3 linked regions of the Homo sapiens genome follow. The protein of the gene in region 1 binds, or shares a complex with, the protein of each later gene. Each region holds a gene or a part of one and is shown in the gene's direction. Other genes may lie near its edges. The genes, in order: CRIPT, BUD13 and SNRPB.

What was found.
Region 2: CRIPT (region 1) and BUD13 share a complex: the UniProt entries of both Homo sapiens proteins name them as parts of the minor spliceosome.
Region 3: CRIPT (region 1) and SNRPB share a complex: the UniProt entries of both Homo sapiens proteins name them as parts of the minor spliceosome.

Annotation. Positions count from the first base shown.
Region 1 is NC_000002.12:46,627,188-46,630,802, forward strand, and holds the end of CRIPT (cysteine-rich PDZ-binding protein), read left to right. Parts: 3' UTR 1-2,989; downstream 2,990-3,615. UniProt on the Homo sapiens protein: As a component of the minor spliceosome, involved in the splicing of U12-type introns in pre-mRNAs. Involved in the cytoskeletal anchoring of DLG4 in excitatory synapses.
Region 2 is NC_000011.10:116,748,843-116,752,495, reverse strand, and holds part of BUD13 (BUD13 homolog), read left to right. Parts: intron 1-3,653. UniProt on the Homo sapiens protein: Involved in pre-mRNA splicing as component of the activated spliceosome. As a component of the minor spliceosome, involved in the splicing of U12-type introns in pre-mRNAs.
Region 3 is NC_000020.11:2,464,313-2,467,789, reverse strand, and holds part of SNRPB (small nuclear ribonucleoprotein-associated proteins B and B'), read left to right. Parts: intron 1-31; coding exon 32-183; intron 184-1,970; coding exon 1,971-2,082; intron 2,083-3,477. UniProt on the Homo sapiens protein: Plays a role in pre-mRNA splicing as a core component of the spliceosomal U1, U2, U4 and U5 small nuclear ribonucleoproteins (snRNPs), the building blocks of the spliceosome.

The DNA of each region.
Region 1 (3,615 bases):
CATTAGACCTTTTTCAGATGCACAGTTTGTGAATATTCTCTCCCATTCTGTAGGTTGTCTGTTTACTGTATTGATAGTTCCTTTTGCGGTGCAGAAGCTCTTTAGTTTGATTAGGTTCCACTTGTCAATTTTTGTTTTTGTTGCAATTGCTTTTGAGGACTTAGCCGTAAGTTCTTTCCCATAGCTGATGTCCAGATGTTATTTCGTAGGTTTTCTTCTAGGACTCTTATAGCTTGAAGTCTTACATTTAAATCTTTTTTTTTTTTTTTCCCCAAAGACAGAGTCTCCTTCTGTTGCCCAGGCTGGAGTACAGTGGTACAATCTTGGCTCACCACAACCTCCACCTCCCAGGCTCAAGCGATTCTCATGCCTCAGCCTCCCAACCTAACTGGGATTACAGGCACATGCCACCACGCCTGGCTAATTTTTCTATTTTTAGTAGGAATGGGGTTTTACCATGTTGGCCAGGCTGGTCTTGAATTCCGAGCCTCAAGTGATCCACCCACCTCAGTCTCCCAAAGTGCTGGGATTACAGGCATGAGCCACTGCACCCGGCCCCTTATATTTAAATCTTTAATCTATCTTGAGGTAATTTTATATATATGGTGAAAGGGGTCCAGTTTGAGTCTTCTGCATATGGCTAGACAGCTGTTCCAGCACCATTTATTGAATTAGGGAATCCTTTCTCTGTTGCTTATTTTTGTTAACTTTGTCAAAGGTCAGATGGCTGTAGGTGTGTAGCTTTATTTCTGTCTGTTCCATTCCATTGGTCTATGGGTCTGTTTTTATATCTGTACCATGCTGTTTTGGTTACTGTAGCTTCCTTATAGTATAGTTTAACTCAGGTAATGTGATACCTCAGCTTTGTTTTATTTGCTTAGGATTGATTTTTTGGTTCCATATGAATTTTAGAATGGATTTTTTCTTTTTTTTTTTTTTTGAGACGGAGTCTTGCTGTGTCTCCCAGGCTCTGAGTGCAGCTGTGCAATCTCAGCTCACTGCAACCTCTGCCTCCTGAGTTCAAGCAATTCTCCTGCCTCAGCCTCCCAAATAGCTGGGATTACAGGAGCCCGCCAACCATGCCCAGCTAATTTATGTAATTTTAGTAGAGATGGGGTTTCATCATCTTAGCCAGGCTGGTCTTGAACTCCTGACGTTGTGATCCACCCGCCTCAGCCTCCCAAAGTGCTGGGATTACAGGCGTGAGCCACTGGACCCGGCAGGATTTTTCTAATTCTGTGAAAAATGATGTTTGTAGTTTGATAGGAATAGCATTGAATCTGTGGATTGCTTTGGGCAGTATGGCCATTTTAATGATATTGATTCTTCTAGCTCATGAGCTTGGAATGTTTTTCCATTTGTTTGTGTCATCTCTGATTTCTTTCAGCGTGTTTTGTAGTTCTTGTCCAGCTCACATTTTATCTTCATACTTTGAGTAGCCTCCTTCCATGAATGGATCATCCAGTGGCCGCACTTAGGTTCTCCTATGAAGATTTTTGTTGTATTGTACCTCAGAACCATCTCCATATTCTCTAAATAATAATAATGATGGTCATAAATTGAATAGAAGTATTTACTAGATGAGGAGGAAAACCCTAAAACAAAACATGAACATAAAATATTTTTAAAAGGAAGACATACAAACAGACACTATAACCAAATAAGATGACAGAATTAAGGCCTTATGCCACAGCCAGAGTTGAAAAATGCAGAAAAAAAGTTTAAAAACAAGGAATTAAAGCCAAACCTAACTTTTATCAAAATAAATGTAAAAGTGATGAAAGAATCTGTTAAGATATCAGATTGTAATATAAAAGATACTAGAAACAAATGCCAATAGAACACTTAAGTACATTTTATATATTCATCCATTAGAATATATAGCTGTCAGAATGATAGAAGAATTACATATGTGTGCAAAAGTTTTTGTATCCATGTGGAAAACACAGGAAGCTAATAGTACTGTTTTTCTCTGGAGTGGGTGTAAGGGTAGAGACTTAACTCTTTACATCCTTATGGCAGCCTTCGAATACCTTTTAACTCCCAGTTCCCTTAACTGGGGGTGTGTATCCTAGAATCCTCGACCCATTAGAAAGTATATTGTAGACATCATACTCTTTACCCTTTAACACTACACATGCACTTCATAAGAACAAGCATGCTGTCTTACCCAAGTACAGCTATCAAGTTCAGAAATTTAACATTGCCATAATACTTTACAGTCCATATTTCAATTTCATTTGCTGTTTTATTGGTAATTTTTTTCAGCTCCACGATCCAGCCTAGGATCATATGTTGTATTGCCATAACCCTCTAATCTGGAGCAGTTCCTCAGCTTTTCTTTGTTTTTTATAATAGTAATATATTTGAAAAATACAGGACAGCTAAAGGATAGAGTATCCTTCTATTTGGGTTTTTCTGATGTTTCCTCATGGTTAGATTGGGGTAGTGCAGTGAGGGTTGAAATGCTGTAAGTGATATGTATTGCAGGTATACATCCAGATGCACAGAATGTCCATTTGTCCCTTATTGGTGATGCTAATTTTGATCACTTGGGTAAGATGTCCAGTTTCTCCAGTGTATCGTTATTGTTTTTCCTTTTGCAATTAGTGGGTAATTTGTGAGGAGAAACTTTGAGACCTTGTTGACAATTCTGTTCCTCATCAAATCTACCCCTCCTAGGTTTAGCATCCTTTGACGATTCTTGTCTGAATAAATTTTTACTAGGATGTTTCCAAAATTGTGATTGTTCTAACTCTATTATTATTTCTGTATTAATTAGTCATCATTCTACTGTAAGGAAGAGGTTTCCCTTTATCATCAACTTCGAGTAAGTACTTTTTTCTGAGCCATTTGAATATTCCTTACTAGATGTGGTGCCTCTTTACCCCAATTACTTAAGTTTGTATTTCCAAAGAACAAGGGTGTTTTCCTGCATAGCCATAGCACAATTACCAAAATCAGAAAATTAACATTAATACTTTACTATTATCAAATCTTTTTCATATTTTGCTAATTGTTTCAGTAATATGCAAAAAAAAAAAAAAGTCTGATCTGGATCCACTCTGGAGTAACATTACATTTAGTTGTCATGTCTGTAGTCTCATTTATTCTGGAGCAGTTCTTCAGCCAGTCTTTCAAAATGCCAAGGTTATGGGCCAGTTGTATTTTTTTTTTTAATTTCAACTTTTATTTTAGACTCAGGGAGTATATGTGCAAGTTTGTTACATGGGTATATTGCGTGATGCTGAGGTTTGGGGCACCATTGATCCCGACACCCAGGTAGTGAGCATAGTACCCAATAGGTAGTTTTCCAACCCTTGCACCTTCCCTCCCTCCCTCCTCTAGTAGTCCTCAGTGTCTATTGTTCCCAACCCGTAGACTTTTTATAGAGTAACTCTTAATCTGGGTTTTTCTGGTATTTCTTGATGATTAGACTGAGCTTATACATTTTTGGCGGGGATACCACAGAAATGGCATTGTTCTTTTCAGTGCACCGTATCATGGTGTCAGTTGTCCCATTACAAGGATGTTAATTTTGATCACTTGTATTAGGTGATATCTGCTATATTACTCTACTGTAAAGTTTCTAATTTTTTACGTTAAGTTAGTAAG
Region 2 (3,653 bases), on another chromosome or scaffold:
TAGTATTTAATTTGTCTTCATTTTTCTCAGTTGCTTTTTTCCACTTCTTGTTCTGATTTTATCCTAGATTTCTTCTCTTATTTCCCTTTGTCACCCTTGCTTTCTTTTTGTTATTCATCTTTCATCATCTTTTCTAGTTTTGTCTCTTTTCGGCCTGCTGCAAGGGAATATTTCCGGAACAGATATATAGTATCTGTTGGAAAAACCCATAAGATAATTACCCAGCCTCTCTTAATTGAAAGAGAAACGGGGCCGGGTGCGGTGGCTCATGCCTATAATCTCAGCACTTTGGGAGGCCGAGGCGGGCAGATCACGAGGTCAGGAGATTGAGACCATCCTGGCTAACATGGTGAAACCTCGTCTCTACTAAAAAAAATACAAAAAATTAGCTGGGCGTGGTGGCGGGCGCCTGTAGTCCCAGCTGCTCGGAAGGCTGAGGCAGGAGAATGGCGTGAACCCGGGAAGCGGAGCTTGCAGTGAGCCGAGATCGTGCCACTGCACTCCAGCCTGGGCAACAGAGCAAGACTCCGTCTCAAAAAAAAGAGAAACTGAGGCCCAATAAATAAGCAGTTTGCCTAGAGTCATGCAATTTCCCTGAGAAAGCTGGAATTAGAACTCTGCGTTCCTGATTCTCTGGTCCAAAGCTCTTTCCACTGTGAGTTCTCCTGCAATTTGTTTTCTGATTCTGCTTAGGATTTGGTGTTTGTTATTCATATGTCCTTTGTATTATCATATTAGTGTAACTCTCTTAAGACCTTATTTCCAAGGTAAAAAACAGTGGTTTCCTTGGTGCTTTGGAATACCATCCATGCTTCTAAGGTTGGAGAGGATGCCATTTATAATAAGCTTCCCTTCTTTTTTTTTTGAGACGGAATTTCGCTCTTGTTGCTCAGGCTGGAGTGCAAAATGGCACGATCTTGGCTCACTGGAACCTCCGCCTCCTAGGTTCAAGCAATTCTCTTGCCTCAGCCTCCCGAGTAGCTGGGATTACAGGCGTGAGCACCACGCCCAGCTAATTTTTGTATTTTTAGTAGAGACAGGGTTTCACCATGTTGGCCAGGCTGGTCTCGAACTTCTCATCTCAGGTGATTCACCTGCCTCGGCCTCCCAAAGTGCTGGGATTACAGGCGTGAGCCACCATGTCCGGCCAAGCTTCCCTTCTTAAAGCCCTCTGTTACTCACTCCACTCATCCCTTAAGGGAAAGTCTTAGCATACATGTTATAAGTGTAAGCAGCTAGGTAGTAGGTACTAGGGATTCCATGATTAAAGAGAGATAGCCCCTGAGCCCAGGAGCTCACTTTCAATCTAGAATAGAAGACAGACAGTTTCAACGCTGTTTGGTTAGTGTTACTATAGAAGATTTTCAAGATGTTTTGGGAGCACAAAGGAAGAGTAAGTTGAGCCTTAGGAGGATGTGAGTGATCAGGAAGTGCTTCCTAACGGATGAAATGTGGGAGCTGAGTTTTAAGGGATGTTGGTAACCAGCCAAGATAAGAAGGAAAGGAAGGATATTAAAGGAAGAGGGTCCTATATGTGCAGAGTCATAAGGCTATGAGACACCATGGTGTTACCAGGTGGTGGGGGTCCCTAAGTAATTTGCTGTTGTTGGATAGCATAAAGCGTGAGATGGATGAGAGAGGTTGGCAGACCGTGATCACAGAAGGCCCTGGAAGCCTATCTGAGGAGCTTGGTCTTCACCCTAGAGGTAAAGGGGAGACACGGAAGGATTAAAAACAGCTCTGCATTTTAGATAGACAAATCCATTATAGCAGTAATATGAAGGATTTGAAAGGTACAAGATTGGAAGTAGAACAGATACAAGGCTTTTGCAGTAGCTCAGGCTGAAAGTAATGAGTGTCTGAACTACGACTTGCAGGCAGTGGTAGTAAGGATGGTTAGTAAGAGAATAGGAAGTGGGGATGTGGTCAGGGGTGAGCTGGTGGGACCTGTTTGCTGATTTGGGGAAGAGGAAGGAGGAGTCATTGGATTTGGCAACAAGGAATGTCAGTGATGACCTGAAAGGGCTAGTTCCGTTGTGTAGTGAAACAATGGCCAGGTTCTAATGTATTAAGGAGTGAATGAAAAGTGAGGAAACAAATAGTGAATACAGGCTTTTTAAGAAGTTTAGATAAGAAGACCAAGAGAATGCATGGTAATTAAAGGGATTTGAGGTCCACTCACTACCTCCTTGAAATTCACCCCTGTATTGTTTTCCATGACACCCTACTCCTGGTTCTTTTCTCTGATCATTCTTGGCCACCTTTGCAAACTCCTCTTCCTCTGTGCACCTCTTAAGTCTTTCCCAGGGCTCCATCCATAATTTTTAGCTGTTCTCACTCTATGTGCTCCCTCTGGCTGATTCTTACCTAGTCATGTTTTCAACTATGACCTATATGTACATGATTTCCAAATCAGTATTTGCATCTTGGTCTGGTGTATTTAGCTGTTTGTTGGATTTCTCTATTGATTTAGACTTGAGAGATTTCAAATGCATTGTATTCAAAGCTGAACTCATCAGCTTCTACTGTAAGCCTGCTCCTACTCTTGTGCTCTCTAACTTGCCTCCTCCTTCTTTGTCCTTGTGTACCTAATCAATTAGTGCTGCTAATTAGTCTTACTAATTTTGCCTCCTGTGTCTTCTCTCTTCCGTCCCTCTTTATCATTGCCTTCATCATCTGTTGCCTGGACCATTGCAGTGATTTTCCTGCCCCAGATCCCCTCCAGAGTGATCTCTTTGAAATGCAGTTTAAGTTCTTGCTTTAAACCCATCGTTTCTGGATGAAATCTAAGCTTTTTACCATGGCCTACGCAGCTCATTATGCATTGGCCTCTGCGCCTTTCCAACTTTGACTCATGGCTGTTCCCTTTGTCATACTTCAGGTTCCAGCCATACCAGTTTGCCTTTGGTTTGCTGCACATACCAGGCCACTTCTTATTTCCGTGCCTTTGTTCTTGTTGCTCATTCTGTTCTGAAATGACCTCCAGACCCTTTCTGGCCCTTCCATCCCCAGTGCTGTAGTTAACACAGAGCCTTTACTGATCATTCTTGCCCAACCCTCATGTCACCTTTTTATCATACCTCCCCCAAGCTGATTAAGATACCCATTCTGTTTCCATGACACCCCATGCGTATTTCTACCAGAGTTTATGCTGTTCTTTTAATTTATTTGTTTAAATGTCTCTCTCTTCCACTAGTCTGGGAGTTCATCAGGACAGGTGCTGTGTCATACTCATTTTCATGTAGTGTCTACCATGGTACCTAGTATATAATGAAAATTCAATAAATGTTTGTGTAATGAATGGATAAAATATAAGATGTGGACATCAGCTGAGAGAGAACCAGGCTTTTAGAGTGGCAAACGTTTGAAATAGCTGTCAGAGTGGGGGAAGGGTGTGAACAAGGACTAAGAAAAGGATGAATGATATATTTTGTCCCTTTGATTCTATTGCATATGCCTTAAATATTTTCTTTTCTTTTTTGTTTCTTTCTTTCTTTTTTTTTTTTTTTTTTTTTGAGACAGAGTCTCTGTCACCCAGGCTGGAGTGCAGTGGCACGATCTCCGCTCACTGCAACCTCTGCTGTCCAGGTTCAAGCGATTCTCCTGCGTCAGCCTCCCGAATAGCTGGATTACAGGCACCTGCCACTGCACCT
Region 3 (3,477 bases), on another chromosome or scaffold:
GAGTCTCATCCCTGTCCATTTCTCCTTGCAGACGGTGGGCAAGAGCAGCAAGATGCTGCAGCATATTGATTACAGGATGAGGTGCATCCTGCAGGACGGCCGGATCTTCATTGGCACCTTCAAGGCTTTTGACAAGCACATGAATTTGATCCTCTGTGACTGTGATGAGTTCAGAAAGATCAAGTGAGGAGTGGACTGTGGGGGGCGGAGACTGGAGGATGGGAATGGATTGAGTGGGTGGGCCAAGCAATAGAGGTGGTGATGTAGCTAGTTGGTTCTTCTCTGTTTATTCTCCAGTTTTAGAGGGCAGACTTAAATGGGGACATTGAACGCTAAGAAATCTTTTTGAGTCCAGCAAACCTTGCTCTCTAGTCTAGCAAAGTACAAGTTGTGAAGGGCTGCTAGGCTTTTTGTTTCTCTCACTTTGCGTGCCCCTGGGTACTGGGGTAAAGGGCTCTCATGTTCTCCCCACAGGTGTGTGAGGGGGGAGAGCTTGAGTTTCTGGCCTCATTGCCTATTTGTAAAGCTGTAGCCTAAAGGGCTCTCCCAATGCAGCCTGGTCTGAAACTGCTTTAAGAAGCCTCTGACCCTCTTCAGGGTAAGTGCTCAGCTCCCCATGTGGGTTTGGGGCCAGTGATTTTTGTTGGCATTTATACAAACAATTGGAGATATTGTCTACTTTGCTACAATTCCGTAAGTTATTGGCTAACTCCCTTGCCTTGAGTCTCACAGATCTTAAGCTTTTGGCCCATTAAAAGATATGATTTAGCTTCCCATCATGTTTTACATTCAAGGCTACTTGAGGCACAAAAAGATGATGTGACTTCCGTGGCCAGCAGCTCTTTTGTCATATGCAGTGTCCATATTATTCTGTCACTCACTTTGAATTCCCTTTGATTCTCCTTGGGGCTGATTTCTTCTGTGACCCAAGGTCAAGAAGTATAGTTTAAAAATGTGGTAGGGATGCCTTGGTGCCAGGTACGTATTAGAGAGGGGCCAACAGATGAGCGTGGAGCTACTCCAAAGTTCCCTCCTGATTATAAAAAATGTTTATTGGAAAATATTTTTGAAAATACAAAGAAGTCTATGAATAGAAACTAAAATACCCCGAAGGGTTTTTTTCTAATTATGAAAGGACAATACATGGTTATTATTTTAAAAAATAAGAAAATGTGAGCCAAAAAAGGGAAAAACTGTCCATCCACAGACAACCAGTTAATATACTGTAAAATATCAAAACAAAATCTTTTGAGTTCTTTTTTTAAATCAGGCTATTTTTTCCCCTTTATTTTTAGGATCTAGCTTTAGCTTTTTTCCCCACTTTCCTATCCTGTTGCAGTTATTTTTCCTACTTCACATTTATATTTTGTTCATCTTTTTCTGGTTGTTGCTTTTTGGGGGTTTCTGTTTTTATGCTTTTGAGGAACAGATATGAAATTTCAATTTCTGTGTATGTGAAATTTCTCTTAACCTTTTCCTTCTATGGCTTCTCCTATTTCTGATGTAAGATGAGGGGCAGAATTATAGGCCTGTGAGGTTGAATTGATATTAGAAGGACACTGCACGTAAGTGAGGTGGGTGGGAGTCATTTGATTGGAATTGTTTAGGCAGCCTCCTGATGTTGGCAAGACCTTAAGCTGAAGGGAGGGAATAGGGTCCTAAGAAAGAAGACTTGGCTGAGGGAAGGGCCTTCACGGTTGCTGTGGAATAGCATTTGGGCCCGGGCTGGGCTTTGTTGACCTTGTCCTATCTCTTGGTCAGTGTGTCCTCTTGGCATGGTAGGAAACAGGTAGATAGCCACCTAAGAGGTTATGTGTTCAGCCTGTAGAGACTATCCAGGAGGGCTATCTTGGGAAAGTTTGTGTACTGTTTGTTAGGAGATGCAGTATAAGCAAATCTTGGAGGCCACTAGGCAGGTGAACTTTACCCACCTCTAACACTTTTTTTGTTCCTTCTAAACCTCTCTTTAGGCCAAAGAACTCCAAACAAGCAGAAAGGGAAGAGAAGCGAGTCCTCGGTCTGGTGCTGCTGCGAGGGGAGAATCTGGTCTCAATGACAGTAGAGGGACCTCCTCCCAAAGATGTAAGTCAGAGCAGGAAGCCTTGTGGAGGAGGGGAGGCCCTACTGTGAGCCAGGCTCTGTGTTAGATTCTGTTTCATTGCAGTTCTCACAGGCATCCTCTGGATTTTGCCCCCTTTTTCAGATAATAAATGAAATCTTAAAGAGGTTACCCTGCAAGAGGCCGGGCGCGGTGGCTCACATCTGTAATCCCAGCTCTCAGGGAGGCAAGAGGCGGGAGGATAGCTTGAGCCCAGGAGTTCGAGACCTGCCTGGGCAATATAGCGAGACCCCATTCTCCAGAAAAAGGAAGAAAAAAAAAAAGACAAAAAAAAAAAAAAGAGGTTACCCTGCAAGAAAGAAGTGGAAAAGGGGAACTAGAATTTGGGTATCTCAGACTTTAAAGCTCTACCTGTTTCTCAGTTGATGTACATAGTGAGTCAGTGGAGGAAGCACCTGAAGCCATCTGGGTCAGTTCTTAATGTGACGACAAAGCCTAGGTAGACCTTAAAAAGTTGTAACTCCGAAACAATAGGAAATGTGTGTATTTTGTTTTGTACAGTTACAGTTCATAGTTACTGAGAATCTACCTTGCGCCAACCACTTCAGTATTTTATTTGATCCTTTAGGTCTCTTTAGAGATAAATTCTCATCTTATAAATAGAATAAACCAGGGCTTAGTAACTTGCCCAAGGTGCCACAGCCACTAAGTGGTGAAACTGACATTTGATCTCAGACAGTCTTGATTCTGTAAACACCAAGCTACACATAGAAATAGAGCAGGCTTTAGAGACCTAGTCAAATTTGTTTTCCCTTTCCCTTTTTCATTTGAAGGGTTTTTTTTTTTTTTTTTTTTAGATTTTTAGATGGAGTCTCGCTCTGTCGCCAGGCTGGAGTGCAGTGGCACGATCTTGGCTTATTGCAACCTCTGCCTCCCGGGTTCAAGTGATTCTCCTGCCTCAGCCTCCCGAGTAGCGGGGATTACAGATGTGAGCCACCACGCCCTGCCAAGACGTTATTTTAATCAAAAGAGAATAATCCTTTTAACTTTTTAAAAATCCACATATATTATCTGGATTTTTTTGTACTTAACACATAGTGGGCATATATTATGTTGTTCTGTGTTTTCACTTAATGTTAACATTTTTCTAGTTGCTCAACACTTTTAAAGTCAAGTTAATGACTGAGATTTTCTCAAATGAGTACAGAGTAGTTTATCCTAATCATTTTCTTTTTTGGAGATTTTTACGTTTTTGCCTTTTCCAGTTAAAAATGTCTGCAAGGGATGTTAGCATATCTTGGTTCAAAGTCCATGTACATATTCAAATCTCTTAGTACCTACTTCCAGTAGAATTGGCTGGTCTAACATAACCCATCATAAACCTTTGTGATCACAACCAGTTGTACCATAACCATGTC